Homo sapiens: one gene and its partners. The protein of the gene in region 6 interacts with the protein of the main gene of each other region in a pairwise test. Each region holds a gene or a part of one and is shown on either strand. Other genes may lie near its edges.

What was found.
Region 1: the proteins of TMEM237 (region 6) and CDS1 interact in binary tests that used the Homo sapiens proteins (3 or more experiments, as listed by UniProt).
Region 2: the proteins of TMEM237 (region 6) and FXYD6 interact in binary tests that used the Homo sapiens proteins (3 or more experiments, as listed by UniProt).
Region 3: the proteins of TMEM237 (region 6) and ATP13A1 interact in binary tests that used the Homo sapiens proteins (3 or more experiments, as listed by UniProt).
Region 4: the proteins of TMEM237 (region 6) and TMEM254 interact in binary tests that used the Homo sapiens proteins (3 or more experiments, as listed by UniProt).
Region 5: the proteins of TMEM237 (region 6) and SLC12A7 interact in binary tests that used the Homo sapiens proteins (3 or more experiments, as listed by UniProt).
Region 7: the proteins of TMEM237 (region 6) and RUSF1 interact in binary tests that used the Homo sapiens proteins (3 or more experiments, as listed by UniProt).

The regions. Positions count from the first base shown.
Region 1 is NC_000004.12:84,585,904-84,590,285, forward strand, and holds part of CDS1 (phosphatidate cytidylyltransferase 1), read left to right. Parts: intron 1-4,382. UniProt on the Homo sapiens protein: Catalyzes the conversion of phosphatidic acid (PA) to CDP-diacylglycerol (CDP-DAG), an essential intermediate in the synthesis of phosphatidylglycerol, cardiolipin and phosphatidylinositol.
Region 2 is NC_000011.10:117,866,180-117,870,561, forward strand, and holds part of FXYD6 (FXYD domain-containing ion transport regulator 6 precursor), read right to left. Parts: intron 1-4,382. UniProt on the Homo sapiens protein: Associates with and regulates the activity of the sodium/potassium-transporting ATPase (NKA) which catalyzes the hydrolysis of ATP coupled with the exchange of Na(+) and K(+) ions across the plasma membrane.
Region 3 is NC_000019.10:19,646,125-19,650,506, reverse strand, and holds part of ATP13A1 (endoplasmic reticulum transmembrane helix translocase), read left to right. Parts: intron 1-566; coding exon 567-766; intron 767-843; coding exon 844-940; intron 941-2,747; coding exon 2,748-2,908; intron 2,909-2,978; coding exon 2,979-3,093; intron 3,094-3,181; coding exon 3,182-3,378; intron 3,379-4,159; coding exon 4,160-4,302; intron 4,303-4,382. UniProt on the Homo sapiens protein: Endoplasmic reticulum translocase required to remove mitochondrial transmembrane proteins mistargeted to the endoplasmic reticulum.
Region 4 is NC_000010.11:80,088,107-80,091,181, forward strand, and holds part of TMEM254 (transmembrane protein 254), read left to right. Parts: intron 1-2,273; coding exon of another isoform or gene 2,274-2,306; exon of another isoform or gene 2,307-2,325; intron 2,326-2,690; coding exon 2,691-2,811; 3' UTR 2,812-3,075.
Region 5 is NC_000005.10:1,076,807-1,081,188, forward strand, and holds part of SLC12A7 (solute carrier family 12 member 7), read right to left. Parts: intron 2,691-4,382; coding exon 2,592-2,690; intron 1,953-2,591; coding exon 1,895-1,952; intron 1,202-1,894; coding exon 1,027-1,201; intron 7-1,026; coding exon 1-6. UniProt on the Homo sapiens protein: Mediates electroneutral potassium-chloride cotransport when activated by cell swelling. May mediate K(+) uptake into Deiters' cells in the cochlea and contribute to K(+) recycling in the inner ear.
Region 6 is NC_000002.12:201,632,867-201,637,248, forward strand, and holds part of TMEM237 (transmembrane protein 237), read right to left. Parts: intron 4,020-4,382; coding exon 3,882-4,019; intron 566-3,881; coding exon 445-565; intron 1-444. UniProt on the Homo sapiens protein: Component of the transition zone in primary cilia. Required for ciliogenesis.
Region 7 is NC_000016.10:31,497,948-31,502,329, reverse strand, and holds part of RUSF1 (RUS family member 1), read left to right. Parts: intron 1-1,598; coding exon 1,599-1,644; intron 1,645-2,804; coding exon 2,805-2,837; intron 2,838-2,922; coding exon 2,923-3,028; intron 3,029-4,382.

The DNA of each region.
Region 1 (4,382 bases), on a different chromosome or scaffold from region 6:
CAAGGCTCATTGTTAGCATAGAGGGCATGCTTGGCGTCTACCTGGAGACTGTAGGAAAAGCTCTAAACAGTGGATGAGGATTGAGCTGGGAATGAAAAGATTCCTGGGACTCACCAGGTTTACAAGGGTTTGGGTAGGGTGTTCTAGGCAAAGGACGTGTTGGGTTTTTTCTTGAATCAGCATTCTAGGCACAGGGTTGCAGATACAGAGGAAGAGATAATGAAGGTCCTGAGAGCAAAAGGAGGAGGCATTGCTTAGAGCAGTGGTCCCCAAATTTTTTGGCACCAGGGATCAGTTTTGTGGAAGACACTTTTTTCCACGGATGGGTTGGGGGGATGGTTTCAGGATGATTCAGGTACATTACATTTATTGTGCACTTTATTTCTATTATTATTACATTGTAATATATAATGAAATAATTATACAACTCACCATAATATAAAATCCATGGGAGCCCTGAGCTTGTTATCCTGCAACTATACAGTCCCACCTGGGGGTGATGGGAGACAGTGACAGATCATCAGGCCTTAGATTCTCATAAGGAACATGCAGCCTAGATCCCTCGCATGTGCAGTTCACAACAGGGTTCAAGCTCCTGTGAGGATCTAATGCTGCTGTTGATCTGACAGGAGGCAGCGCTCGGTGGTAATGCGAGTGATGGGGTGTGGCTGTAAATACAGAGGAAGCTTCACTCGCAGACCACTCACCTGCTCTGCAGCCGGGTTCCCAACAGGCCCAGTTCCTAACAGGCCGGTACTGGTCTGTGGCCTGGGGGTTGGGGACCCCTGGCTTAGAGGACATCATCAGTAGTACTTAGGAATAAGGGCTGAGATAGAACGTGGAGTTTAGCAAAAGATCTAAGTAGAAGCAAGTTTAGGTTGAGGAAATTGAGAGGTGAAATGTTGGTAGTTATTGTTATAAAGTGGCAGTGAAAGGAATACAGGATGGCAACTAGAGAGACAGGAGGATTAATGAAGATTTTTCTTTTCAGAGGAGGGGAGATATATATTTGTATGAAAGTCAAATGAGTAAAGATGTTGAAGACAATGGGTAGGCCCTAGGAAAAAGAAAGCAAACATGGGGTAGAGACTATGGATTATTGGGATATCCAAGGAAAGAAAAGAGGGATGCATGTCTTTTCCTTAAGAAAAGAAAGACGGAATGAAGAGTGGATACAGGAACATTTTGAAAAGCAGAAAGGAGAAGATCAAATGTTGGATGCCTTCAGTTAGTAAAGTAGGAACTCAGAACCAATGAGCTTCAAGGGATCTTAGAAACAACTTGGTTTAACTCAATTCATATATATTTGTATTTGTATATATTTATATATAATTTGGTATATATACAATTAAATTTTAAACAATAAATTTGTATTCAGTTGAATCTTCACTGAGTTTAATAATTCTGTATAGTTTTATAATAGTTACCTTTTGGTCATTTCCTATCACACTTCCCAAAAATGACAGTTCAGATGTGTTCCAGTCACGTTCAGTGTTGTGTGACTGTGTGTTAGGAATATCCCCATTTAATAGCTGAGAATAAGAAAAGCAATGGGAGTGATTTAGGCCTGGGGAGTGCCAGAGGTCCAGGATGTAGGGAATTAGAGAGTCAGTGAAGCCAAGATTGAAGTGGATGACCACAGATTCAGGTCGGCAGGGAAGTGGGCTGGTGAAGATCTAATGGGTTGAGTGGGAATGAGTATTGAAACAGAAAGAGCTAAGACATGACTTATGTAGAGACCAAGGGAGAACTTCCCCTCTGCCCTCTGAAGACTTGCCAGAAAAAACTGACAACAGGTAGATTAATCGGAGAAATGGCATACAAGTTTATTAACGTGTGGGGTGGGAGGAGGGAGACAGAGTGATTACCTGAACCCCAAGAGGCTCAGAAGCTTATATACCATCTTGAGGCAAAGGTGGTCCTGTCATGTAGATGAAACCTCATAGGGAGGAGCCCTCAGAGAGAATAGATGGTGAATATTTCTTTCAGACCTTTAAAAGTGTCAGACTCTCAGTTAGTCTTTCCTAGATCCAGACAAGAGAGAACCTTCAGAGAAGGCCAGGTTGCATCAATGCAGATTTTCTCTACAGACACAAATCTACCTCACAAAAGACAGCTTTGCAGGGCTGTTTGTTTGCAGGCCCTCTGAACAGCCATCTCAAAATATGTCAAAGAAGTATAATTTGGGGTGAAATATTCTGATTTCCTTCACTTGCTAGACCCTGAAGTGGGAGAAAAGAGGGTGCACATTGAGGCTGTGGCCAGTCAAGGGGAGCACACGTGGAATAGTGTGCTTTCAGGTAAGATCCCTGTGTGTTTGTGCATGGGGCTGCTACTTAGGGATTTTGGTTTGTGAAGTTGAGGAGAAAACAATCCAGAGATCAGTTAACGTCTCTCCTCCATTTGAGATGTGTGCAGCTTCTTTCATAAATACATTATTATTTTCAAATAAACTTTTAATTTTGGAACAACTTTGATTTATGTAACCACCCCACAGGTTCTTCTTTCTTGCTGCCCAGATAGAACTGGTTTATCAACACGGGAGAATTGCAATAGAGAAAAAGAGTTTAATGCACACAGAGCCGGCTAAACAGGCGGCCAGGGTTTTATTATTACTCACATTAACCTCCCTAAAAATTTGGAGGCTAGACTTTTTAAAAGATAGTTTGGTGTGCAGGGGGTTAGAGAATGGGTGCTGCTGATTGGTTGGGGAGGCAATTGCAGGGGTATGGAAAATGGTCCTTGTATGCTGAGTCCATTTCTGGATGGGGGGGCCACAGGAGTTGCTGGTTTGGGAGGAGTTATCCAGTCATCAGAAATATAAAAATCTGAAAGTGGTCTATCTTTTAAAAGGCCAATCTTAGCTTCTTTAATAGTGATATTATGTGTAGAAGTAATTGGAGAAGTTGCAAATCTTGTGATCTCCAGACCAGTGGCTGGTAATTGTTTACATGTAATCACAACAAAATTCAGTCCCCTCTCATAATCCTAAACTTGTGACCTTTTATTAGTTTTATAAAGGCAGTTTAGTTTAGGGAAGAGCTGTTATCATTTAACCTGTAAACTAAATTCTTCCAAAGTTAGCTTGGTTCTCACTTGGGAATGACCATGGGCAGCTTGAAGGTTAAAGGCAAGATAGAGTTGGTTAGGTCAGATTTTTTTTCACTGTTATGATTTTCTCACTGTTACAGTTTTTGTAAAGGTGGTTGGTTTTATTTACAGAAGCATTACAAAGATTTCTATGTACTTTTCACCGACTTTCCCGTAAGGTTTGTATCTTGCATAACCGTGGTACATCGGTCAAAACTTAAGAAATTAACATAGCTATAATATCATTTTAGACTGTAGATACTATTCAGAAATTCACTGGTTGTTCCACTATCCATTTACTGCCCTGGGATACAATCCGAGATTCAACACTGCATTTAGTCTAGTTTATTTTGTTATTGTAAAAGCCTTATTGTGTTTTTGTAAATTACTTCTTCATTTTGGTACACTTCACTACAGGTTGTGCTGATGTCACCTGTAAGTGTAATGAACATTTTCTATAGTTTTTCATCTAGATCTAGGCCATTAATAAAATACTAATGTTTAGATCTAGATTTCTGGACTACCATTTGGGCTGATACTCCCTAATTGTTGATAAATTATCAGTCAGTATTACCACCTAAATAATTTTCCATGATTCAGCTTTTATCATGCACAGCATATTCATTTCATTTAATAACATTTTTTTAAAATGCTGGCTTCCAAAATATCGGCAACCCAGCCAGGTGGTAAGACAGAGCTGGGTTTTTAGCTTACTGCAGTGAGGAACACTTCCACAGAGCCTTGGTAGTATTTCAGAGGGGGAGAGGCAAGTTGTAACGTATTTGAGAATTGGAAGTTTGGTTTAAGGCAGGTCTTTTTTGTTTTGTTTTGTTTTGAGACGGAGTCTCACTCTGTTGCCCAGGCTGGAGTGCAGTGGCGCGACCTCGGCTCACTGCAAGCTCTGCCTCCCGGGTTCACGCCATTCTTCTGCCTCAGCCTCCGACGTAGCTGGGACTACAGGCACCCGCCACCACGCCTGGCTAATTTTTTTGTATTTTTAGTAGAGACGGGGTTTCACAGTGTTAGCCAGGACGATCTCAATCTCCTGACCTTGTGATCTGCCCGCCTTGGCCTCCCAAAGTGCTGGGATTACAGGCATGAGCCACCTCACCCAGCCTAAGGCAGGTCTTTCAATGTGGGGAATTGATTAGGATTGGGTAAGGGTCACAATATAACAATTTGGGGTTAGTAGATAAGCCAGATAAGGATTTTGAGGCAAACATTTTCAAAGAGTCTTAGGACTAAACTGTTCATTGATGCTTCCTTTCAAAGAGTTGATGTGTCTTTTAGAA
Region 2 (4,382 bases), on a different chromosome or scaffold from region 6:
TCAGTTTCACAAGACGATGGGAGTTCTTGAGATGGATGGTGGTGATCGTTCCACAACAATATGGATATACTTACCTCGCTGCTGAAATGTACACTTAAAAATCATAGTACATTTTATGGTATGTGTATTTTACCATACTAAAAAAAAACTGGGGGGGAAATGGGTATAGGTGACGGGAAAAAACATGTTGACCCTAACTCCTGACCAAGCTGGGCTCACCTGATGAGGGTGTTCTTACCCAGGCCAAGGAAGAATAACCCAAAATACAGCTTTTCAGACTTTGGCATGCATTATCCCCTTTTTCCGCCTTTCACATTTTCTTGCCCAACTCTGTTCTGCTGACTATGACTGAGGTTGGGGTAAAGCTGGGACCCTGGGGCCTGTTAATAGGAGAGGTTGTGGCATGTCTGTTACCCATTGTCAGATCCCAGCTGTTCCCAGCGATGCCCCATCAGTCCCAGCTGAGCTTTGGCATCAGCACAGGCACTCCTGTGTCCCTCTCAGCCTCTGTCCATCTCACAGCTGCTGAGTGCCCCGCTGCACTTTGCCTAGCAGAATACCAGTGCATTTATGCTGAGTACTGGATGGAGTCCCAGACCAGTTGTAGGCTATCCTGTCCACTGGAGCTCAGCTCAGGGTGGGTGCCAACAGAACTACTAGCCGGCAGCCTTTCACCGTGGGCTGCAGAGCTGCAGATCACCTTTTTTTCTGGTATGGCTCAGAATTAGATGAGGGTGTAGAATCGAAATAAAGGCCACCCCTACTCAAAAATGTATCTGCCTCCACAACAATTCTTCCCAAGGAGAGACGTTTAAATGTCACGGCATCACTACAAGAGAAATACTCCCAATCCTAACAGTCATTTATATCTTGGCCTGAGTTATTTAATCAGATTGCTTTCCACAGCAGAGAAATTTGCCTGCATTTAGGTGGAGAAATTGGGGGAGAAAGAGCGTACTTTTGGAACAAGGTGTAATTTTGGAAACAATGGCACCCTTATCCTTCCAGTAACCAAGTTAACAAATATTTATTGATGGCCTAATGCTTTCCAGCACTTCACTCATCACTGAGGACACTGCAGTGAGCAAGACAGACACAATCCCTGCCTCCCTGCCTGACGGAGGTTACGGCCTCACCAAGTTTCCGGGGCTTCCTCTCTCCTTCCCCATCTCCACACTGCATCTGTGGCAAAGTCCTAGCCATGCTCGCACTTGCAGTATCTCTCTAATTGGAACTTCCTTTCCGTCACTCCTCTGGGTAACTTACCTAATAGTGCAGTAGCTGGACCCATCTTTAACCTCCTCCTTCCCCTCTGTGCTGGACACTGATTACTGCAGGACTAACCTTTCTAAAGTGTATTCTGAATACCTCCCTCCCAAACTCAAAGGCATTCGGTGGTGCCTCTACGTCCTATTTAGTTTTTTAAAATCCAAACTTCTTTCTGGCATATGAAAATCTCTAAGTGTACCTCTCTTCTACCCCTCCAGTATCTTCTCATTACTTTCAGCTAAGATGGTCTACGTTCCATCTTCTGCCACATGTGTCTCTAACTGCGTGCCTTTGTATATTCTGTTCCTTCTACTTACAATGCCCTTCCCTTCTTTGTTTATTCCAGTTCTCAACCCTGGTTGTACCTTAGGATCACATGAAGAGCTTCAGAAAAAAAAAAGAAAGAAAGAAAGAAAAGAAAAAAGATGCCTGGAAATCAACTCAGCCACATTCAGCTCTAAACCCGGGCAGTGTAGCCAAGGGCAGTGTAGCCAAGGTATCGGTAATTTTGAGAATCTCCCCCACTCATTCTGATGTGCAGCCAAGGTTAATAAATGCTATCTTTGTCCAGCTGCCACTCCACGTAGACCCCTTTCTCCAGACTCCAAGAGCGCCTGTCGCCTGTCGTTGGCACTAATTTGGCGCATAGCACATTCTGTTTCATGCTCGCTTCATTAAGATTCTCCTATCGGAAAAGTCTCTGTGCTACCCCATGATCTGTCCTCACCTGGGATGGTGAGGACGGCCGAAAGTGCTGGCTGATGGTTTGGTATGTTTGTCTCGAGGAGCGGAGAGAACACAGCTCCAATCACCAGGCCTTGAAACTGTGCTGCGTGGGGGGCATGAAAGGGATGGAAAACCCAGTCCCATCAACGTCAACAGCAATGAATCATCCTGATTGTATCGTCTTGGTGTGATGTGATGAAAATGGCACTTTCCCTCTGTGATCTTCCTCCCTAAAACCCATCACTCCAGTCTAATCATGAGGAGAACATCGAACAAATCCCAACAGGGCCACATCCTACAATACACCTGACCAGTGACCCTCAGAACTGTCAAAGTCCTGGGAAGCCTGAGAAAAGGTCACCACCCAGAGGCACCAAAAGAGGCACGACTCAATGGAGTGTGGTATCCTGGATGGGATCCTAGAACAGAAAAAGGACATAAGGTACAAACGAACGACATTTTAATAAAGTGTCAATGTTAGTCAATATTATTGTACCAATATTTGTTCATTAATTGTAACAAATGTACCACCCTAATGTAAGATCGTAATAATAGCAGAAACTGCATGCCAGGGGAGAAAATTGGAACTCATACAATCTGCCCAAGTTTTCTGTAAATCTAACTGTTCTAAAAAGATAGTCTATTCGTAGAAAAATAATAAAAATTCAAAAATTCAGTTAAAAGCAATCCTCAACCCCATCCCAGCACTCCGGCTCCTGCTCACCTTTCCGGCATTTGATGAATCTGTAACAGGAGCTGGGCTTCTCTGGTTCAGAGCCTCAGAGCAAACAAACAACCATCAAGGGCTTTTAAAGCTGCCTTTTAAAACAAGTGCTTTGGGTCGACCAGAGGCCACAGATCCATCAGTGGAAAATGCAACCAGTTCCCTCAATTTGCATTTTAAATGCCCATCAAATAAACAATTAAGCATCAATTATTGTTAAATCACCTAACTTGAAATGATTGCCCGCCCCGCCCAGCCAGCAATGTTCCAGAGAGGAGTCGAGGAGGAGACTGGACTCAGAGACTGGCAAGGGAAAGGACAGAGCAGAGGGTGGTGAAATTCCAGCAGTCCATGGCTCAAGGAGGCTGCAGACACTGCTGAATTTCCCAAGCTGCCAGGAAGGCAGCTGGACAGTCTAGGAGCAGGACAGGGCACCTCCGCCCAGCGCATCACTGTGGCTGACACCTCCCAGGGTGGCCTTTCCCTCTCCTGTCAGGCGCCTTCAGTAGCCCAACGGCTCGAATGCTGCCCCTCCAACCCTCATTCATGGAAGAGGGGCACTCCCACTGCGAGGGTGCTGGAGGCTGAGTCGTCAGGTACCCTGGACTCAACCGGCCCAGACCCAACCCAGCCCGGCTGCACAGGGTGGAGCGGGAGAGGCAAAACTCTCTTGTCATATAGCAGGGGACTTATTTTTAACCTGGAGGCACCTTTATCTTTAACATGAAAACATGAAGTTCTTTCTAGGGAAGAGAAACTTGGACAGAGGAAAAAGAAGAAGAAGAAGAAGAAGAGAGAGAGACAGAAAATAACTGACTGTGAAAAGAAATAAGGCCTCTTCCTTAGAAACAGAAACAGAATTCACAAATCACAAATCCAGGCCTGTTTTCTGGAAGTCTCCCTGGAAAGATCCCAAGCTGGACCATAAGCGGAGGCATGGTGGAGAGATCTTAGCCTCTGGTCTTTCAGTGCGTGCCGGCCTGGCTTTGTCCTCCAGCTGCATGCGGGTCACTGTCATTCCAATCACATCCCCTCATCCTTGGCCCTCTCTGCCCACATCAGATATTCTGAACTGGGGCAGCCCCATTCTCTGGGCCCCAGCCTGGTCCGTGGGGCCCCAGCCCCCTTCCCAGGTCTTGCTGTCACCTCACCATCACTGACAACCGTGACACTGTGGCATCCCAGCCATCACCCATGGACTTCTCACAACAGCCCTCAGAAGCAGAAACACAGAACAGTACTGCGAGGCCAACTCAGGCACAGGCCAATGCCGCGCCTTGCCCAGAGGGAGTCAGAGTGGGATTCAGGCCTCCTGCCTGCCAGCACAGGGGCTGAGGCCCCTCTGGTTCCCCAGGAGATCTCGGTCTGGCTCCAGAGAGTCTGAATGGTGAGTGGTATTGCACAGAAGCCACAGGCTGGGGCCCCAGCAGGCTGCACGCCCCAGCAGGGCGTGATGGAGTCAGGCCAGGATGGGATCACCTCCCCCACACACCTGCTGACAAAGGCCCATTCAAGACAGGACAGACAGCAGTCCCAGCAGCAGACACAGAAACCCAGAGCAGCTGCCAGGGCCAGGAACCCAGAAGCCAGGCCCACGCCACCCTGCCCACAGCCAGGCCACAGCACCAGGCAGCCCCCTTTGCTCTCTCTGCCTACCTCTTTA
Region 3 (4,382 bases), on a different chromosome or scaffold from region 6:
TGAGCAGGCAGTGCCAGGAGGGCTGGCGGGCCGCCCTTGGCCATCCTCAGCGCCCAGCATCCAAGCCAGGGCCAGCCAGCAAGAAAGGGGAAGTGGAGCAAGAAGATGTTGAGAACTCAGGGGCCCTGTCAGAGTTGGGAGGGGGCCCAGCCCCGAGAAAACAGGATTTCAGAGAGGCCACGGGCGCAGGGATAAATGAGGTGAGGGCCTGGTGTGGGGTTTCCCAAGGAGAGCGCAATAGCCCCCTTCTGTGTGTTTCAGGTTAGGGGGCCTTGCATGAGGTGGGGGCATGGCTTAGCTGGGGTCAGACTGCCCAGGTTCTAATCTGGCTGTGTCCCGGGCTCTCAGGCAAGTAGCTCAGGCCCCAGGCTCTTGGTTCCACCCTGTGCACCTGAGGGACATTCTTTGTGGAGTCCCCAGAGAAGGGCTGGGGGTCACCTGGGTGGGTAGGGAGGTGCGGGCTCCAGAGAGGAGAGACTGGCTGGTGCTGGGGTCCGAGTGGAGGGAGGGTGCTTCTGAGCCCGGTCAGCCAAGCCCCCAGCCCTAACCCTAGGTGCTGCCCGCAGGCCGGCAGTGCGAGTGGCGCTCCATTGACGGCAGCATCGTGCTGCCCCTGGCCCGGGGCTCCCCAAAGGCACTGGCCCTGGAGTACGCACTGTGCCTCACAGGCGACGGCTTGGCCCACCTGCAGGCCACCGACCCCCAGCAGCTGCTCCGCCTCATCCCCCATGTGCAGGTGTTCGCCCGTGTGGCTCCCAAGCAGAAGGTATGTGCACAGCCCTAGGGGTCAGGGGCACAGCGGTAGGCACGCAGCCCCTGCTCAGCCTGTCTCCGCCCATACAGGAGTTTGTCATCACCAGCCTGAAGGAGCTGGGCTACGTGACCCTCATGTGTGGGGATGGCACCAACGACGTGGGCGCCCTGAAGCATGCTGACGTGGGTGAGTGCTGTGGGCTAGGGTATTTCGTTTGTGGACGAGGTGTTGAGGACATGTCACTGAGCTAGAAAGACAGACCTGGCCCTTGGTGACAGCCACGGGGGCACTAATTCCTGTGAGGATGGGAGGGGGTGGCAAGGTCAGGGGCTTTGAGGGCAGGAAGGGATGCGAATATCCCAGGAACAGAGCAGGGCGGAGGCCAGAGGCCAGGAGAGAGGCAACAAGTTGGGAGAGTGACTCAGAAAACCCAGAGCTGAAGCCATGAAGATGGTTCATAGCCCCAGATCTCTGTCAAAAGCACACAGATGGCTGAGCACTGTGGCTCCTGCCTGGAATCCCAGTGCTTTGGGAGGCTGAGGCGGGAGGATCACTTGAGTCTGGGAGTTCAAGGCAGTGGTGTGATCCACTCTAACCTAAGTGACAGTGCAAGACCCTGTCTTTTTTTTTTTTGACGGAGCCTTGCTCTGTCACCCAGGCTGGAGTACAATGGCACGATCTGGGCTCACTGCAACCTCCATCTCCCGGGTTCAAGCGATTCTCCTGCCTCAGCCTCCCAAATAGCTGGGATTACAGGCACGTGCCACCATGCCTGGCTAATTTTTGTATTTTTAGTAGAGATGGGGTTTCACCATGTTGGCCAGGATGGTCTCCAATTCCTGACCTCAAGTGATCCACCCGCCTTGGCCTCCCAAAGTGCTAGGATTACAGGTGTGAACCACTGCATCCCACCGAACCCTGCCTTTTTTTTTTTTTTTTTTTTTTGAGACAGTTTCTCTCTTGTTGCCCAGGCTGGAGTGCAATAGCACGGTCTCAGCTCACTGCAACCTCTACTTCCCGGGTTCAAGCAATTCTCCTTCTTCAGCCTCCCAAGTAGCTAGGATTACAGGCGCCAGCCACCATGCCCATCTAATTTTTGTATTTTTAGTAGAGATGGGGTTTCACCATGTTGGCCAGGCTGGTCTCCAACTCCTGACTTCAGATGATGCGCCTGTGTTGGCCTCCCAAAGTGCTGGGATTACAGGTGTGAGCCACCTCACCTGGCCTTTTTTTCTTTTTTCTTTTTTTTTTTTTGCAAGAACTCAGGTGTTAAATTGAATTTTAAAGATCAATCTTACGTTGGTTTTTTTGCTTTTCCAATATTTATCTGCTTTTATCTACTAAAGCATTTATTGAGTGTTGTTTGCCTCCTAGAATCATGCTCCTTGGCTATTTCTTTTGAAATCAGTTTAGGTTGTTTTGTTTTGTTTTATTTTGAGACTGTCTCGCTCTGTCGCCCAGGCTGGAGTGCGGTGGTGTGATCTCATCTCACTGCAACCTCCGCCTCCCGGGTTCAAGCGATTCTCCTGCCTCAGCCTCCCGAGTAGCTGGAATTACAGGCACATGCCACCACCCCTGGCTAATTTTTGTATTTTTAGTAGAGACGGGGTTTCGCCGTATCAGCCAGGCTGGTCTCAAACTCCTGACCTCAGGTGATCCGCCCACCTCAGCCTTCCAAAGTGCTGAGATAACAGGTGTGAGCCACTGCGCTCGGCCAAAATCAGTTTAGTTTTGACCTATCTCGTGTTGTGTGTTTTTTCATTGCATTTGTTGTGGGGGTTTATTGTTGGTGGTTTGTTTTCTTAAAGTAGTTTGTAGAAAGCAACACGGGCACTCTCTGAGGTCTCCTTAGGGTGTCAGGTGAAATGGGGAAGTCTGGGAACTGTCCTCACGGGAGCCAGCTGGGGGACTTCAGGACCAGTGGCTCTGAAGCCAGCAATCTTCCCCTCCGTGGAGCCTGCTCCTCCGGGTCTGACACCCTCCTGCCCCCCAGGTGTGGCGCTCTTGGCCAATGCCCCTGAGCGGGTTGTCGAGCGGCGACGGCGGCCCCGGGACAGCCCAACCCTGAGCAACAGTGGCATCAGAGCCACCTCCAGGACAGCCAAGCAGCGGTCGGGGCTCCCTCCCTCCGAGGAGCAGCCAACCTCCCAGAGGGTGAGTCCCAAGAGGGGAGGTGCTGCACCCCATCCTGGCCAGGGCTGACAGCCTGCTGTCTACCCTGCAGGACCGCCTGAGCCAGGTGCTGCGAGACCTCGAGGACGAGAGTACGCCCATTGTGAAACTGGGGGATGCCAGCATCGCAGCACCCTTCACCTCCAAGCTCTCATCCATCCAGTGCAGTGAGTTGCCTGCCCCCGCTCCCCCTCCCTTCATTCCCCCCTTGGCACCCCTACCCACACCCACACCTGCCTCCCCACCACCCTGCAGTCTGCCACGTGATCAAGCAGGGCCGCTGCACGCTGGTGACCACGCTACAGATGTTCAAGATCCTGGCGCTCAATGCCCTCATCCTGGCCTACAGCCAGAGCGTCCTCTACCTGGAGGGAGTCAAGTTCAGTGACTTCCAGGCCACCCTACAGGGGCTGCTGCTGGCCGGCTGCTTCCTCTTCATCTCCCGTTCCAAGGTGGGCCCCAGAGGTGCTGGAAGGCCAGGGATGCATGGGCCTGCCAGGGCCAGGCTGATATAGGCACGGGAATTGTCATCCCCAAGTTACAGGACCCAGGGCCCCAGAGATGGGGGCTGTAGCTGGGATGGCTCAGGAAATGCTGGCAGGGCAGGTGTGGACTGAGGCTCCCAGACCCCTCCAGGTGGTACAGCTTGGCGTCCACACCTGTCCACAGGTAGGGGTCCCAGGGGTGGGCCCCACAGAGCCCCACAAGCAAGGAACAATCATCAAGAGGGTAAAAAAACAACTAAGTGGGTCATAGGCTACACAGGACAGGCTGGTGGACAGCTGGGGAGGCCTGTGCGACACCGACACTCAGGCCAAGGCGTAAAGAACCAGGGGGGCCAGCGGCCAGGAACTGGACACAAAGGCCCCAAACAGGCATGGGCTGACGCAGGGAGTCCCCGGTGGCTGGAGGGGGTGGGAGATTGGCTGGGCGGGACTGTGCCTGTCCCGTGGGCTCCAGGGAGGGCAGGATCTGCTTCATGATTCTCAGGCCCCTGTGGCTGCCATGGGGAGCCTGGATGGCGGAGCCGGGGCCAGGGAGGCAGCCCTGGGCTCAGGGGTGAGAGGCAGGCAGGGATCCAGGGACTGGTGCTGACCCATGGAATCCCCCAGGATTTGGTGGTGGCTGTACACAAGGTCTCCCGGGAGGCAGGGGATGTTACTGCCTGCTGTGTGGGCAGGGTGGCCCCAAGTGAGCCAGATCCTGACTCCCCCACCCGCCTTGCTGCTGCAGCCCCTCAAGACCCTCTCCCGAGAACGGCCCCTGCCCAACATCTTCAACCTGTACACCATCCTCACCGTCATGCTCCAGTTCTTTGTGCACTTCCTGAGCCTTGTCTACCTGTACCGTGAGGCCCAGGCCCGGAGCCCCGAGAAGTAAGTGCTGCCTTGGAGGAGGTGATGTCCCTGCAGCTGAGAATAGCAGGAGGATGACTCCACAGACTTCAGCAGGAGAG
Region 4 (3,075 bases), on a different chromosome or scaffold from region 6:
ATTGAGACATTCAGTCTTCACTGATGTGCCCTATCTTATATCATACATACTGATATGTGTGGATCTATTTCTGAACACTCTATTCTGTTCCATTGGCCTGTTTATCCTTGGGCTAACACAACACTGTCTTAATAGCAGCAGCTTTATAATCATTGTTATCTGACAAAGCATCTCCTCTCATCTTGTTCAATAGGATTGCCTTTGCCTACACCTTTGCATATTCTGTGCATTGTCTTGTGCCACAAAAACAAAAAATAAAGATGTTGAGATTTTCATTGGATTGACCATGTGAAATAATTTGGAGAATATTGGCATATTTCCATTATGTTTTTTTTCTTTTTTTTTTCCTTAAGGTCAGGAAAGCATCAAATATTTCTATTATTGAGTCTTCTAAATGATGAAATGATCTGTTTCCATTTATTTAGATCTCCTTTAATATATATATAATTTTTAAGAGGTTTTACACATTGTTGTTACATTAATTTCCAGCAACTTCTACTTTGAGATGTTATTATAAATGACTTTTTTTTAAAAAAAGATGGAGGGTCTCCAGGAGGCTGAGGCAGGAGAATGGCATGAACCCGGGAGGCCCCGGAGCTTGCAGTTAGCTGAGATCATGCCACTGCACTCCAGCCTGGGCGACAGAGCAAGACTCCGTCTCAAAAAAAAAAAAAAAAGATAGGGTATCATTATGTTGCCAAGGCTGATGTCAAACTCCTGGGCTCAAGCGATCCACCTGCGTCGGTCTCCCAAAGTGCTGGAATTACAGGCCTGAGCCACCACACCTGGCCAACTTTTGTTGTTGTTTTTGTTTTTGTTTTTTGAGATGGAGTCTAGCTCTGTCGCCCAGACTGGAGTTCAGTGGCATGATCTTGGCTCCCTTTGTTTCATTTCATTTTCTAATTGTCTGATGGTACTTTGTATGAATATAGTCAATTTTTTATATTGACCTTATACCCAGCAATCTTGCTAAATAAATTTATTAATTGTAACAGTTTATAGATTATTTTCAGTTTTTAGGTATAAAACTGTCCAGAAATACAGTTTTATTTCTTTCTTTCAATTCTGTATACCTTTTATTTATGTTTCTTCCCTTATTCTACTAGCTAGAACTTCCAGCAGTGCTGACTAGAAGTGTGCCTTGTTCTTGACCTCAAAGGAGAACTTTCAACATTTTGCATCATGTTTATTATAGAGTTTTGTAGATCTCCTGTGTCAAAATTAGGAAGTTCCATTGTATTTCTAACTTTGCTGAGAAGTTTTATTAAAAATGGATGTTGGATGTGGATGCAGGTGGCTCACACCTGTAATCCCAGCACTTCGGGAGGCTGAGGTGGGAGAATCAGTTGAAGCCAGGAGTTCAAGACCAGCCTGGGCAACAAAGCAAGACACTGTCTCTACAAAAAACAAACAAAAAACCTAGCCAGGCATGGTGGTGCGTGCCTGTGATGATCCCAGCTACTTGGGAAGCTAAGGTGGGAGGATAGCTTTAGCCCAGGAGTTTGAGGCTGCAGTGAGCTATAATTGTACCAGTACACTCCACTGTAGGTGACAGAGTGAGACCCCATCTCTGGGGGGGTTGGAAAAAGAATGGATGTTGAAATTTGTCAAATGCAGCCGGGCGTGGTGGCTCACGCCTGTAATACCAGCACTTTGGGAGGCCGAGGTGGGTGGATCACGAGGTCAAGAGATCGAGACCATCCTGGCTAACACAGTGAAACCCCATCTCTACTAAAGAAATACAAAAAATTAGCCAGGCGTGGTGGCGGGCTCCTGTAATCCCAGCTACTCGGGAGGCTGAGGCAGGAGAATGGCATCAACCCGGGAGGCAGAGCTTGCAGTGAGTCAAGATCGCGCCACTGCACTCCAGCCTGGGTGACAGAGCGAGACTCCATCTCAAAAAAAAAAAAAAAAAGAAATTTGTCAAATGCCACTTCTGCATTTATTAAGATATTCATATGATCTTTCTGTTTTAATCTGTTACTGTAGAAAATTATATTGCTTTTACATATATTGTTTTTAAAGTTTGTTTTAAATAAAAGTCATCCAAGTGAGACTTATTTATGTACAGATGAGACTGTAGCAAGCCATTCCCTTCCATTGGGTCATCTTTTTTTTGCACTTCATTTTAGGCAGTTGAATTTGAATGACAATATAAGCAGGTGTTTATCATGACTGTGTGCCAGGCTCCTTCCTGAGCATGTTGTGTGTATTATCCCATAAATCATCTCAACTGACTCAGTGAGATAGCTACTGCTGTTCCTGTTTTTCAGATGAGAAAACTGATTCTGAGAGATTCTGAGTGATTTGCCCAGGTCACAGCTGGTAGGTAGCCACGCTAGGATTTATATCTGGTCTATTTGCAAAACATTTGCTCTGAAACCATACCAGTGCTTTTTACTCCATCCGCTCATCAGAATCACATGAGAAACAGTCTTATAATACTGTGCCCTAGACAGTAGCCAGACTAGTTCTCAGGGAATAGTTTACCATCCAAAATACATTTGTTAGAAAACAAGAAAGATGAAAAATAAATGAACCATCCAAGATAAGCCAGAGAAAAGCAGCAAAATAAACCCAATGAAAGTAGTGGAAGGTATAATTTAAAAAATATATATATAGAAGACAATAACTCCCATGAAACTGTAAGATTAACATCTCGTGTTTAAATTTTGTTTTTTCTGTTTTAGGCATAAAGGCATCACAAGTGGTCGGGCTCAGCTACTCTGGTTCCTACAGACTTTCTTCTTTGGGATAGCGTCTCTCACCATCTTGATTGCTTACAAACGGAAGCGCCAAAAACAAACTTGAAGTTGTCTGAAAGCTTGCTCTACACTTTTACATTCATCCTCACCCTTTTTTTTGTGGGGTAGAGGAGGTGCAGTAATTTACTCAGTGATCTTTCTACTTTCTAGAAACTGTCCTTCAAAGCTCTTTAAGACCCCCTCGTTAGTCAGTTTTTTCTCTTATATGCTCTGGTTGAGCTTGAATAGACCAGTTGTTACTTAAGAAAGAAACAGAGAAAGATTTTAGCTTTTCAATCCTATTTGGCAGAGGACTTCAGCTACCTTCTTA
Region 5 (4,382 bases), on a different chromosome or scaffold from region 6:
AAACACCTGCAGGGAGAAGGGCAGGAAGATGGGGCAGATGACACCACCCTTTTAGGAGAGAAGCTGCAGGCTGGTCAGGTCTAGCCCAGATGAATCTTAAAGACACAGACCAGCAGAAACGCCTTTCACAGTAGGTCCCCGGGACATCACGCGGCTGGCCTGGGAAGAAGCCCTGACAAAGGGCTGCAGCCCAGGAGGCTTCAGAGCTGTGCCTACGCCCGGCTTGCCTGCAACCTGTGTGGCCCCAGCCTGCCCCCCCGCCTCAGTTTCCCCGACCACACAACACAGGACCAGCGTCTCCAGGGCACTCGCGGTTCCCCAGACCCTGTGGTGACCTTTCTCATCAGGCCACCCTCACCTCCCAGAAGCTGAGGCCCACGGGGCCTGTGTGCCTGTCCCCTTCCTGGACACCATGCCCTAGGCCCGGCTGGGACTGAAGATGCAACCACACAAAGGCCCTGCGGGTCGGCACCCTGCCGAGGGACCAGCGACGGGCAAGGATGGCTCTGCCATCCACGACCTTCCCACAGCTGCCCCTGGGCCCAGGTAGCAGGAGGAGCCACAATCGGCAGCTCTGGGCACAGCACACGGACAGGACCCATGCGGGCGTCCGTGCAATCCTCAGAGCAGCCACACACACTGGCTGCAGGTGGCTGGTGACGCCACCTCCCACGGGCTGAAGAGCTCAGCCACACAGAGAAAGATGTGGCAGGCAGGCAGAGGGCTTCTGACCAGACAACAGACCAGGCACCTCTGGACACGTGGCTGTGGGCCCTCACAGCCGCTCCTGACACACCCGGGGCCGAGCTCGGAGGGACCTGCAGGCAGGAGGGCTAGAATTGCCTCTGCCCACCACCCACCTCCCACCACTCCCATGCTCTGTGCAGTGGCCAGGGGCAGAATGACCACCATGGGGTCCAAGCCGCGGGCATGCGTCCCACACACGGCACTGTGAGGATCCCGCAGGGGAGGAGAGCCCCCGACCCTGACCTTCCAGGGTCCCCCCGACGAGGGTGCGGGACTCACCTGCAGGAAGGGGACGATGCCGTCACGGGCAATGGCCTGCAGTAGGCGCGGTGCCCCCGTGAGGCTCTGCAGGCCGGCACCGCAGGTGGAGAAGAAGGAGCCGATGACGATGACCCAGGGGGAGGGCCAGGCCAGCATGCCGATGACCAGGTTCCCCTGCAGGGCCTCCCCGAACCTGCAGGCAGGCGGGCAGGCGGGCGGGCGGCTTTCAGAAGTGAGCCTGAGTCAGACAAAATGTCTTCTCCCACCCAGAGCGAGGGGCCCAGTGCAGTGGGGGCGACTCCTTGGAAAGCTGAGGCCCGGCCTCCAGTCCCCGTTGGCTGAAACCTCCACCAGGCTCTGCCCAGCATGGCCAGAATGCTCTGGAGGGTCTTCAGCGGGGGAGGGGGTCCTGCTCACCTCAGGGTCGCTCTTGGGAGCAGGGAAGACCCAGCCTGGCATCAGCTTCAGTCAGGGACCACCCAGGACCCCCGGGGCCTTGGGGCTGCCAGACACGCACACCCCATGAGGATGCAGGGTCAGTGATGACCTGCCTGGGACCCCACTACTTCTCCACTTGCCAGCAGGGCTGAGGGATCTCCCAGGGCCAAGCCTCACCCGTCCACACCCCTGTGGCCTCCCCAGGAAGGGCCTGCGCCCCCAGCCGCATCAGGGCTTGGAGTTGGCTCTGAACGGTTCCCCAGGCCCTAGGCTCCAGCGGAAGAGACGACACATCAGACCAAGGGATCCCAACCCTGGGACCAGGACGCCTTCAGCTCTGCACGCGGACATGAAGTCCTAGGGCGATGTAATTTCAAAGCCGAATTCATCCTCAGGAAAACCCTTGAAGACTACAGGCTTTGCACGAAAACTGCAGGTGGAAACGTACTTATCTCGTAAGACCACGCCTTCAATGCAGGCCCCAAACAGCACAATGCAGGAGAGATCCACAGCCCTCGTCAAGGAAAGGCAGGTCCGTGGGTGCAGGGTCCTCAGGTACGGGGGGTGGGGTGGGGTGGGGTGGGGTGGGTGGGGAGATGCACTGGCCAGCGGGCCGCAGGATCCAGGTGGGCGGGGACCGTTCTGCATCCCATCCCATCCCGGGCACGTCCTGTCCCCCGTGTCCTCAGCGCACCCTCCTGGGGCTCTGTCCAGCGCCACAGAACGGGGCCCTGGGGTGGTGGACACACACCTGGCCTGGTGCTTGACCGCCAGGGATTGGCAGGGGACCATGCTGAGGGGACAATGCTCGGCTGGAAAGAGGCAGCCTTGGGATTGAGAAGCCAGAGGCCCCGCGGGCCCAGCCTGCCGGCGGCACACCCCACACACCGCTGCGCATCACTGTCCACACGCGGCAGGGTGACTGCTTCTGTTTTCTCTACGATCGCATCACACAGTGGTGAAGAAGCCAGGGTCCTGACAGCAGCCCTTGCCCCGTCTCCCAGGGAGGATGACGTGGTGAGAGCACAGCCTAACCTGGGAAGTCACATGCTGGTGGCCGAGGGTATGATGCTGAGCCGGGGAGGGCATGGGGGCCTCCCCCCAGGCAGAGGCTGGAACCCTCGCCTGCACCCCTCCAAGGATACAGATGAAAGACGTCGTCACTATGGCCAGGATGGTCCCCGTGGGGATGGACTTCTGTGCATCCTTGAGGTCCCCGGACCGGTTTGAACCCGCCATGATACCTGTGAACATGGAAAATGCTGCAAAGACCCATCTGAGGAGTCAGTGCCATGTGATGGCAGCCCCTGCCCAGAAAGCTGGAAAGGCGGTCTCTGGGGAGACCCCGAGCGTGAGCTGCAGCCGAGGCTGCAGTCCAAGCTCCGCCAGCCCACGCTGCAATACTGCGGCTGAGGGGATGCGGGCCCAGGCACGCGGATGAGCACCCACGTCTACTGCTCCCCTGGATCCGAGGACGAGAACCGACCCCGTCACTGACCCCCACGCCCCCCACACCCAGGGCTTCTCTGGAGCCTGTGTTAATCCCATGGCCAAGGGTCAGCCCAGAGACGGTGCTGAGCAATGGCTCACAGGCCCCCAGGACCTAAGGACTTTGGGAATGAGATCCTAGAACGACTCAGCCCAGCCAGCCAGGCCAGCAGACGCTGCGACCCCTCCCGCTGTGGCACCACCTTGCTCTAGGGAGCCACGGCCGGGGATGTTTCCACACAATCGGCTCCTACAAAGCTCTGGGAAGCCGGGTCGGTGGGGGCCACTTCACGCCTGGCTCGGTCCCATCCAAGGCGCAGCCTGAAGCACCCATTGCTCGGGGTGGCCTGGGAGGCAGCAGAGCCCACAATCCAGTGCCGCGGAGACACCCGGAGCCACGCAGAGGCTCTGCCCCCACGCCCTCCACCCGCGGCTCAGAGACACCCGGAGCCACGCAGAGGCTCTACCCCCACGCCCTCCACCCGCGGCGCGGAGACACCAGGAGCCACGCAGAGGCTCTGCCCCCACGCCCTCCACCCACGGCGCGGAGACACCAGGAGCCACGCAGAGGCTCTGCCCCCACGCCCTCCACCCACGGCGCGGAGCGCACTCAGACGGACGGGGGAGGCTGGAGCGGAGGTACAGGGAGAGGACCCCCGGCAGATCACCCCCTCCATAGCAAGACGGGCCCACCTTCAGTGGAGGCAAGGGAAACACGAGAAGCCAGCGCTGTGGCCAGGCCCTGCAGCTGACCCTGGGCTCCAGGGCTTTCGGATGTGCTGAGATGAAGTCCGGGAGCAGACGTGGGAGGGACCAGAAGGGACCAGAAGGGCAGCTGCAGGCTGCACAAGCAGCCAGCGCCTGTCAGGGGCGTCCCGACAAGAAGGCCGAGTGGAGACAGCCGGGGGCGTGTGTGTGCGACTCGAAGAGCACGGGGCCTGGCCCCACCCCCTGGGGAACAACCAAGGGCCCCACCCACCGCCGGAACAAGGCCCACTGTTTGAGGAGGACACAGAGGGCCGAGGTCCCCGGCCTCTGAGCTCACACTGAGGCCACTCCTAGGTGTCTCCTAACAGCCTGCCAGGTGTTCCCAGCAACCCTACAACAGCTTCTCCTGACACAGGGCTGCCTGGGAGAGCAGCAGACAGGCTTCTCACAAATCCATCAGGACGCAGGGCAGAGACCTCAGCCACTTCCCCTGAGCCAAACAGGCAAGATAAGCAGGGGCAGGAAGGAACACACTACAGAGAGAGAGACAGAGAGAGAGACAGACAGACAGACAGAGAGAGAGAGAGGGAGGGAGGGAAGAAGAGGGAGACAGAGAGAGAGAGAGAGACAGACAGAGAGAGAGGGAAAAGGGTAGGGGGAGAGAGAAAGAGTGCCGGAGGAGAGAATGACAGAGACAGAGAAATGGACAAAGACAAAGGAAGAGAAAGAAGGAAGCCAGG
Region 6 (4,382 bases):
CCAGTGTTATTTCTTTAAAGTACACTACTCATTTTATCTTAATGCTAAAACCCAGTTTTACTTATTCCTAAAATAATCATAATTTGAATTCTGTTAACATAAGAAAATAAATCACAATAGCCTATTTCATTATCTTTAATTTTTAAATATCCTTAATGTTTAATTTTGCTACTTATATATTCTATTTGTGTTCTTCTTTTTTAGAGATGGCTCTTAAGTTTTTTTATTTAAGTACAATCTTAATTTTTTTTATTTTCTCAGTGGTTTACTCTTCTGAAATTTATCATTCGATTGGTTTAACTGATTTTTTGTAATAATACTTATCCTAGAGGTACACAAATACAAGTATGTAATAAGACTTAATGAGAAGCTACTGCTTCGGAGCTCCAAACAAAGCATCAGGGTAATCCTGGAGAATAGTTAGAAGAATAAATAAATTCCTACTTTGTCTTCCTCCGAGGTTTTTGAATAACTGCCTCCTCAGCTGGCTCCGCATCAATACCATTTTCATTTCGTAATAAAGATGAACTAGATGACTTCTTTTGGGTGGAGGAAGTCTCCAATTCTGAAAACAAAATAAATTTAACTTTTCAAATAACTAAAACATAAAAAGAAAAGTAATGTACAAGACTTGTATAAGAGAAAAGAACTTCAAGAATTTTAATTGGGCAAAAATGTTTTCACTATCTTACAAATTTTTAATTTTTTAAAAATGTTATACTTCTAAACTCTCAATGTAAAAATTGAAATTGTAATGCCAAACAATATGGAAAAAAATTAAGTAACCCAATACCCAGGCTGTGCTGAAGATTCCCAAGATTATCTCCTGGTTCGCTGACTTTCTAGAAGGGCTCACAGGACTTGGAAATCATCACACTCACAATTATGGTTTACTACAGCAAATGGATATAAAGCAAAATCAGCAAAAGGAAAAAGTACATGGACCAAGTCCAGAGGAAACCAAGTACAAGCTTCCAAGAGTCCTCTATCAGTGGAGTCAAATAGGATGTACTAACATTACTGGAGAGTAATGAGTTGTGACAACACATGTGACACATGTTGTACAAAAGAAGCTCATCAGAGACAGTGCCCAAGGTTAGGGGCTAGTCACATAAGCCTAGCACATACCAAAATTCTGGATGCCCGGAAGGGAAACAGATGTTCAGCAAAAATCACTATGTGTGCACAAATGCACCGTGAGTCACCTTATAATTTAGGGAAAGTTTTCTATCAGTGTAGGGAGCTGTTTATCATCCAAGTTCCCAGATGCCAGCTAACGGCCAATCTTATCAGCAGGCTTTTCCAAGGATAGCAGTCTCAGGTCTGCTATATTAACTCTTTTCTGCACACAGGGTAGGTATTAAGTTTAAATGAGTCAGTGAAGCCTTCTTCTAATCCACTAGCTACTCTTCCTACCTGGAAATACTAGCTCCCTGGAATACCTTCAAGACCTTACAATTCTATTGTAATAAAATACTTACAGCCTCGACTGGAAATATAATGCAAGCAGTAGAGCCTACCATTGGTCATCCTGAACAAAATAAATAAAAACACAATTTTTAAATCCAGAAACTTAGAAAGGTGAACCTGCCAGGCTTGGTGTACTTTGGAATGGCAATGACAGGTCCTTTTTGATTCAAAACTTAGTTGGGTCCTGAATTTTCTAAAAAAGTCATTTCTGTAAACACACTTTTCACAAATTATAAAACTAGGTATTGGTATCCATCTTGATTTTTAAACTTGTATCTTAACTAAATTACTAAAAGGGCACTTTTAATGAAACTACATTTACTGCCACTAATGAAATAAACTGTAGAGTAGTTAAAGCTAGTCTGAGCACCATTTCTGTCTCTTTTCCTTCTTCTGCCATCATCCGCCCCTTCGTTCTCATAGACCCTCAGTGCCCCCAGGCACTGTGGCATCCCACTTCAACTTGCCTTCCAAAATTATGCTCCATTCTCCTGACTTTTCTAGTTCCTGCCCTTCTACTCCTATAATTCTTCCATCCAATCAAGACACGCCGTTTTCTAGAAGGACAAGTAATTAGGAAAATTATAATAAATTATTAATAAGGGCTGATGTTAATAGGAGAGCACTAATCTCCCCATCTTTGTTCCTTCCCTGAGTTTTGCTCCAATACAACTCTTTGTCATTTTTCTAATTATTATAAAAGTCATAATGCTCAAAATATAAAAAATTAGTAAAATAAATGAAGGAAGAAAATTTTAAAAATCATACTTCCTCCTTCTAAAACTTCTACCACTGTAACACTGCTATATTCTTCCATTCTTTTTACTATGTAGATGTATGTACATATTTACGTTCTGGGTTGAACTGTGCTCCAAAAAGAGATATGTTCAAGTCCTAACTCATAATACCTGTGAGTGTAACCTTATTTGGAAACAAGAGTCTTTGCAGATGAAATCAAGTTAAGATGAGGTCATGCTAGATTGGAATGGGCCCTAAATCCAACAACTGATATCCTTATAAGAGGGAAATGTGGACACAGACACACAAGGAAAAATGTGAAGATGGAAGCAGAGATTGGCATTATGCCACCACAAGTCAAACAATGCCAAGGACTGTCAACAACCATAAGAAGCTAGAAGAAATGGCCAGGCGCGGTGGCTCACACCTGTAATCCCAGCACTTTGGGAGGCCGAGGTGGGCGGATCACCTGAGGTCAGGAGTTCAAGACAAGCCTGGCCAACATGGCAAAACCCTGTCTCTACTAAAAAATACAAAATTAGCCGAGCATCATGGCAAATGCCTGTAATCCCAGCTACTCAGGAGGCCGAGGCAGGAGAATCGCTTGTACCCGGGAGGCAGAAGTTCCAGTGAGCTGAGATCGCACCATTGCACTCCAGCCTGGGCTATAAGAGTGAAACTCCATCTTAAAAAAAAAAAAAAAGAGGCTCGAAGAAACAAGGAAGGATTCTTTTCTAGAGACTTCAGAGGGAGCATAGTCCTGCAGACAACTTGATTTTGGACTTCTCACCTAAGAACTATGAAAAAATAAACTGTTGTTTGAAGTCACACAGTTTGTGGTAATTTGTTATGGCAACCCTAAGAAATTAACATAGTATATTTTACAAAAATGGGATCCTCCAATACATACTATTTTATAACCTTTGTTCTTTGATTTAATAATACACAACTGATGATTATCTGTGTCACCCTAACAATCCTTTTAATGGGTACCTGGTTCCTATTTATGGATGAAGTATGATTTATTTAGCCAGTATCACACCGTTAAATATCTGGGTCATTACCAATTTCTACTCTTATAAATAACGCTGCAGTTAACATCCTTTAATTACTGCAGCTATTGAATTTACTACTATTCCCAGAAATCCAGACAGGCTGTATCTATGCTCCTATGAGCAAAGCATGAGTGCACCCATTTCCCATCAATATTGGATTTTATAATTTGAAAAAAGCATTGCCAATTTGATAGGCCAAAAAATGGTATAGTATTTTATTTACCTTGTGAACTGCCTGGGACATAGAAAGACTAAACAAATGTTAGCTGTTGTTTCACTATATTATTGTTAGTACAGAATCTACCATTTCCCCACTAATCTGAAATGTCCATTTCATCATTTACTAGATTTTTCTATGCACTGAGATCTGAACTTTCTGTTTAGTCCTGTATTTGTTGCCCTCCTCTCATAATCTATACATATATGATCAAAAGAGACCTGTAAAGTATTCTTGGCTTAAGCCATTGGAGTTATTCTAGTGGTAAATATTTTAAACATAAAAGCAAGAAACCACCTGTGGGATATGGATAGGGGGAAAGAAATGAAAGCAGAGAGGTTTTTATCATGTCATCAAAATCACAAGTGCTATCACAACTTAACCTTGGTTTCTTCACATACCAAGAGGTAGCCTTGTCTTTTTCTGTCTTCTTTGAACAGGAGCCTCTGGGTGCTCTTTGAGTTCTTTAGTTGATGGCTCATTGCCCTCAGAGGGCCTTCGACCAGCAGTCTGAGCAAGGCCTTCCAAAGAAGCACTTGCTATAGAAAAACAGAGTAGAAAAAAATGAGATTACTTGAGCAAAGATCACTGAATCTTAAAAAGATGGAGGAAAAGGTAACTAGAATGTTTCCTATAGAATAACCCCATCTCTTTCAGAACTAATTATCCCCCAAATCTTTCCTTCCTCCTCACCTGTAACTTTGGGCTTTAAGTTAGGAAAAGAAATAAATGAAGGAATAAGAAAGGCTGAGGAAGAAAAAACGAGGGGGCTAAAAAGAAGAGCAAAAGACAGGAGGAGGAGAAATTGCTTCAGAACATTTAGAACTTTGAAAAAGGTGGAAAACATAATAAAAACTGATACCATAGAGAATTCTCTTACTTGCCTCTTGCCTTAAGAATTT
Region 7 (4,382 bases), on a different chromosome or scaffold from region 6:
AGGCTCTGGAAAGGGGAGAATGCATCTGCTCTCAGTGGAGAATGGGAGGGCTGGCCCGTGTCATTGCATTTATGTTTCGTGGGAAGCTCCCAGCCCTCATTCCCATAACGTAGTGTCCTTTCTCCTACATCCCCACCTCAGGGTCAGTGCCCTCAAGCTCAGACAAGTCCAAATCCTCTCCCCATGGTATCTGTCCTCTCCCATGTCCACTGTATGAGTCCCTCCCAGGTGTCTCGTTCTAAAATATTTCTGCCAGGCTTAATGGGTGCTGCTCTCTGTATAATGGATGGTCCAGATTGACAAACTTTTTCTGTAAAGGGCCAGATCTTAATGCTTTGCAGGCTTTATAATCTTAGTTGCAGCAACTCAGTTCTGTCATTGTCTTGCAAAAACAGCTATAGACAATCTGTAAACAAATAGGCATGGCTGCATTCCAGTAATACTTTATTTCCAAAACCAGGGAGTAGAAACAGTTTAGTGATTCCTGGTCTAAATCAGTGTTTTCTATACTGATTGTTATCTGCTCTTTGGCTGGATTTTGACCCTGGGATCATCTTGGTCACTGTGGTCATGAAGTACCTGGCAGAGAGAGTTAGGTAGCCAGAAAGCATTTGTTGTGCAAACGAAGGTCCCACTGATTCCAGAGACTTCTCTTACTCTGCCCAGCCTAAGGAGGCCTGTCCCTCTGCCGTGCAACCCCAGCTGCAGTTCAAATCTTTTTTTTTTTTTTTTTCCTGAGACTGGGTCTTGCTCTGTCATCCAGGCTGGAGTGCAGTGACATGATCATAGCTCACTGCAGCATTGATCCTGAGTTCAAGCCATCCTTCCGCCTCAGCCTCCCAAGTAGCTGGGACTACAGGCATGCCACCATGCCTGGCTAATTTCTTTCCTACTTTTTGTAGAGATGGGGTCTTGCTGTGTTGCCCAGGCTGGTCTTGAACTCCTGGCCTCAAGCAGTCCCTGGGCCCAAACCCCCTGTAATCCCAAAGTGCTGGGATTATAGGCCTGAGCCACCATACCCAGCCTAAATCCTTTTATTTATTTATCCCATAATAGCCATCTGTGAGCCAACTGCCCAGCCTAAGAGCTAGAACAGGTTAGCAATAACCTTTGAATTTCCACTTAAGATTTCCTGCTTTTTTGAATAGTTTTACCAAATAGGTAAATATTCCTAAGTGCTATATTGTTTAGTTTTAATTTTAGAGCTTTGCAAACTGTGCTGTATGTGGTCTTCATGAGTTATTTTCATGCAAGAGTTTAATAGTATTCATCTATGAATGAATGCCTCTGGGTGAATATACTAGAATTTATGTATTCTGTCAGTCAACATTTGCATTATTCCCAGGTTTTTTGCTGTTATGAACAATTCTGCAAAGAACATTTCTTGTCCATGTCTCCTAGGGGACATATTGAGGAACTGCTATTTGTAGGCACTTCTGACCCCATTATGTAGCTATGACTATCCACAACTTCTAGTACCAGACCGAGTTCCCAAAGGCAGTGACTCAGTGAATTGGCCAGTTCAGTGCCAGGGTCTGCCAGGCCCCACAGCTCCCACACCTCTTCCTTGCTCCTTACCTGTGCCTTCTTTCCCCCAGATTCAACTGGCATGCTGGGCCGCATCGTCTTTGCCTGGTGGAAAGGGTGAGTTTGTCTTCCCGGCCAGCAACTCTGGCAACTCTTCCCAGTAGTGGTAGTAATGATAGTAATAGTATTGCCATTAATTGTGGCTGTAAGGGTTCCATGAGATGATCTATGCAAAGTGCTTAATGCCCGTGGCATCGTACATAATGGCTCAGTAAACACTAGCTACCATTAACAGCTGTAACTGTGCCCCCTGAGCCTCTGTATGTTGTCTCTAATCCTTACAGCAACTCTGTAGGATGGGATTGGATGTGTACATTTCATAAATGTGAAATATACCTGCATGAGGGAAGTTACCTGCCCAAACCACACAGCTTATAACTAGCGAGATGGGATTTGAACCTGAAGCCTGTGCTTTCCATGGTATTGGGCAGTTCACTGGGCAGAACCCTCAACCAGGCCATGTGTTCAGGATCTCGTTATGTGTGTCTGATACCTCTCCCAAGAATATTCCCATTCCCTCCAGGAGATCTCATACTGAGACTCGGGCCTAATGCTGCAAATCCTGAGCTGGGCTGGGGCTGCAGTATCTCCTGCCACTGGGACCCTAGAGAAGTTGTTTCCAAGTGTTTGTGCACAGGGCAGGGAGTCACTGTCTGACGAAAAGGGCAGGTGAGGTAGCCGTCCACGGTGTTGTGTAACAGAAGTACCCTAGGCCTGGATGTCGGAGCCCGGCTCTCTTAGCCTTTTCCCCAACTCTGCGTGTGATCCAGGGAAATCATATCCCCTGTGAGGGCTAGTTGTCTGTAACATGCAGGGTTACACACTCAATGTGATGTTTACTAGTCCAAAACATGCTCACTGGGTACCCTCACTCTAAAGCAAGAAGAAGAACGGAGAGAGGCAGAGGAACTCAGGAAGAGCCTCCCTCCAAGGACAGACAGAGGCTGGGGAGCAGCCACAAGACAATCAGGGTTTTTCCTTGGTAAATCATGAGTTCATAAGCGGGAGACACTAGGTGATCAGTCAGTCACTGAAGGTTCTCCCAGCTAATGGTGGCATTTTAGGTAGCAGTGACCGGCTGTGGGGACAGATGTCTGTCTGGGGGTGTGGGTTTTCCTGAGCTCTTCAGACTTTACTGTGGTCCAAGACTCCCCACACTGCCCATAGGATGTGTTTCTCCTTAAGTCCAAATTACAACAACCTCTCCTCCCCAACAGGAGCAAACTGGACTGCAATGCCAAGCAGTGGAGGTGAGGAGGGGCGGGGACGGGGGAGGGGAGTCTTCCATTATGAAAGTCTCCTACCTCTGACCTCTAACCTCTGATCCCTCCCCAGGCTTTTTGCGGACATCCTCAATGACGTAGCCATGTTCCTTGAGATTATGGCTCCTGTATACCCAATCTGTTTCACCATGACCGTCTCCACCAGCAACCTAGCCAAGGTAGCTGCCTGTGGGGGCACCCATCTGCCTAAAACACCTGCCTTGGTAGTGTGTGAGTTTACCTGGGCTCTGTGAGTTTACCTGCCACTTCAAGAAGAATAAGAAAGTTCAGATGTTTCTACTCGAACCCAACCATCCTTTCTGACCCTCCTCCAGCCAGACAGCATCTAGTGCCCCAGAAAGTGTAAGGCAATGTCTAGAGCCACAGGACTGGGGAGGGAGCTCCGAGCTGAGAACTAGAAGGGGTTGTCCAATGTTGACATTTTGGGACCAGCTTCCTTGACTTCCCTTTGGTTCTTTCAGTACAGTATTTATTGAGTGCCTACTGCATATTTGGCACAGAATGTGGGCCCCCGTCTTTGAAAGGAAACCACACATAATTGCACCAGTGTTTGTGGAATTATAGGTACAGGTATTCTAAATGAGAAATGTTGGGGCCTGCAAGAGGCTGAGGCGGGGATTCCAGCCTGGTCAGGGAGTGTAGGAAGAGCTCCCCTGAGCCTGGGTCCTGAAGATGGAGTTTAAGGTGCAGGGCGGGTGTTCCGGGCAAAAGAAACAGCACAGCTTAAGGTCTGGAGGCGAGGTGGAGATGGAGCACAGACCGCACAGTGAGCTGGGGGACACGCGGGGCTCAAGCACACTCTTCCTCCACGCCAAGCTGTTGCCTGCACAACCCTTGCAGGTTGATCTCACCCAAATGAGGACACTGAGGCCTGGCATGGTTCAGTAAAGAGCATATCCTGTCAGAGTTAAGTCCCTGGCCCAGAGGAGAAACTCAAGAAAATGGAAAACCCATTCCAAGGCCCATGTGTCAACTTAAAATCACGTTAGGGCCGTGTTTCTCCATAAGTACTAGCATTTGGGGTGCAACGGTTCCTTGTGGTAGAGGACATTTAGCTTCCTTGGTTGCAAGCCTAAATGCTACGAGCACCCCTAAACAGGGTAGGAAACCCCAGAGAAAAGCATGGCTGTAGCTATGGACCGAGGGTTGTGCCATCTGGCTTTTGCTTCAAACTCTGCCTTTGAGACTTCAGTCTCTTCATCTGTCCAACAAGGGAATGGAACAGGGCCATGAGCTTCCCTCTTAAGACCCCTCTCTAGAGTTCCCCTCTCCACAACCTCCATCTCCAGCTGCACCAAGAGAAGCCAGCCTGGCTGTCATCTATGCTGCCGCCACCACCACTGCCACCACCTCCTCCTCTTCCCCCTTCCCCTTATCTGTCACCTTCGGCTGAACCTTCAGTTCTGTTATTTTTCCCTCCTCAAAATCTCCAGTCCATTCTCTCCTCCATCTTCCTGTCACCACCTCTCACTGCTGAGAGAGCACCGTTGCTTCCCAGGTAGCCTCCGTGCC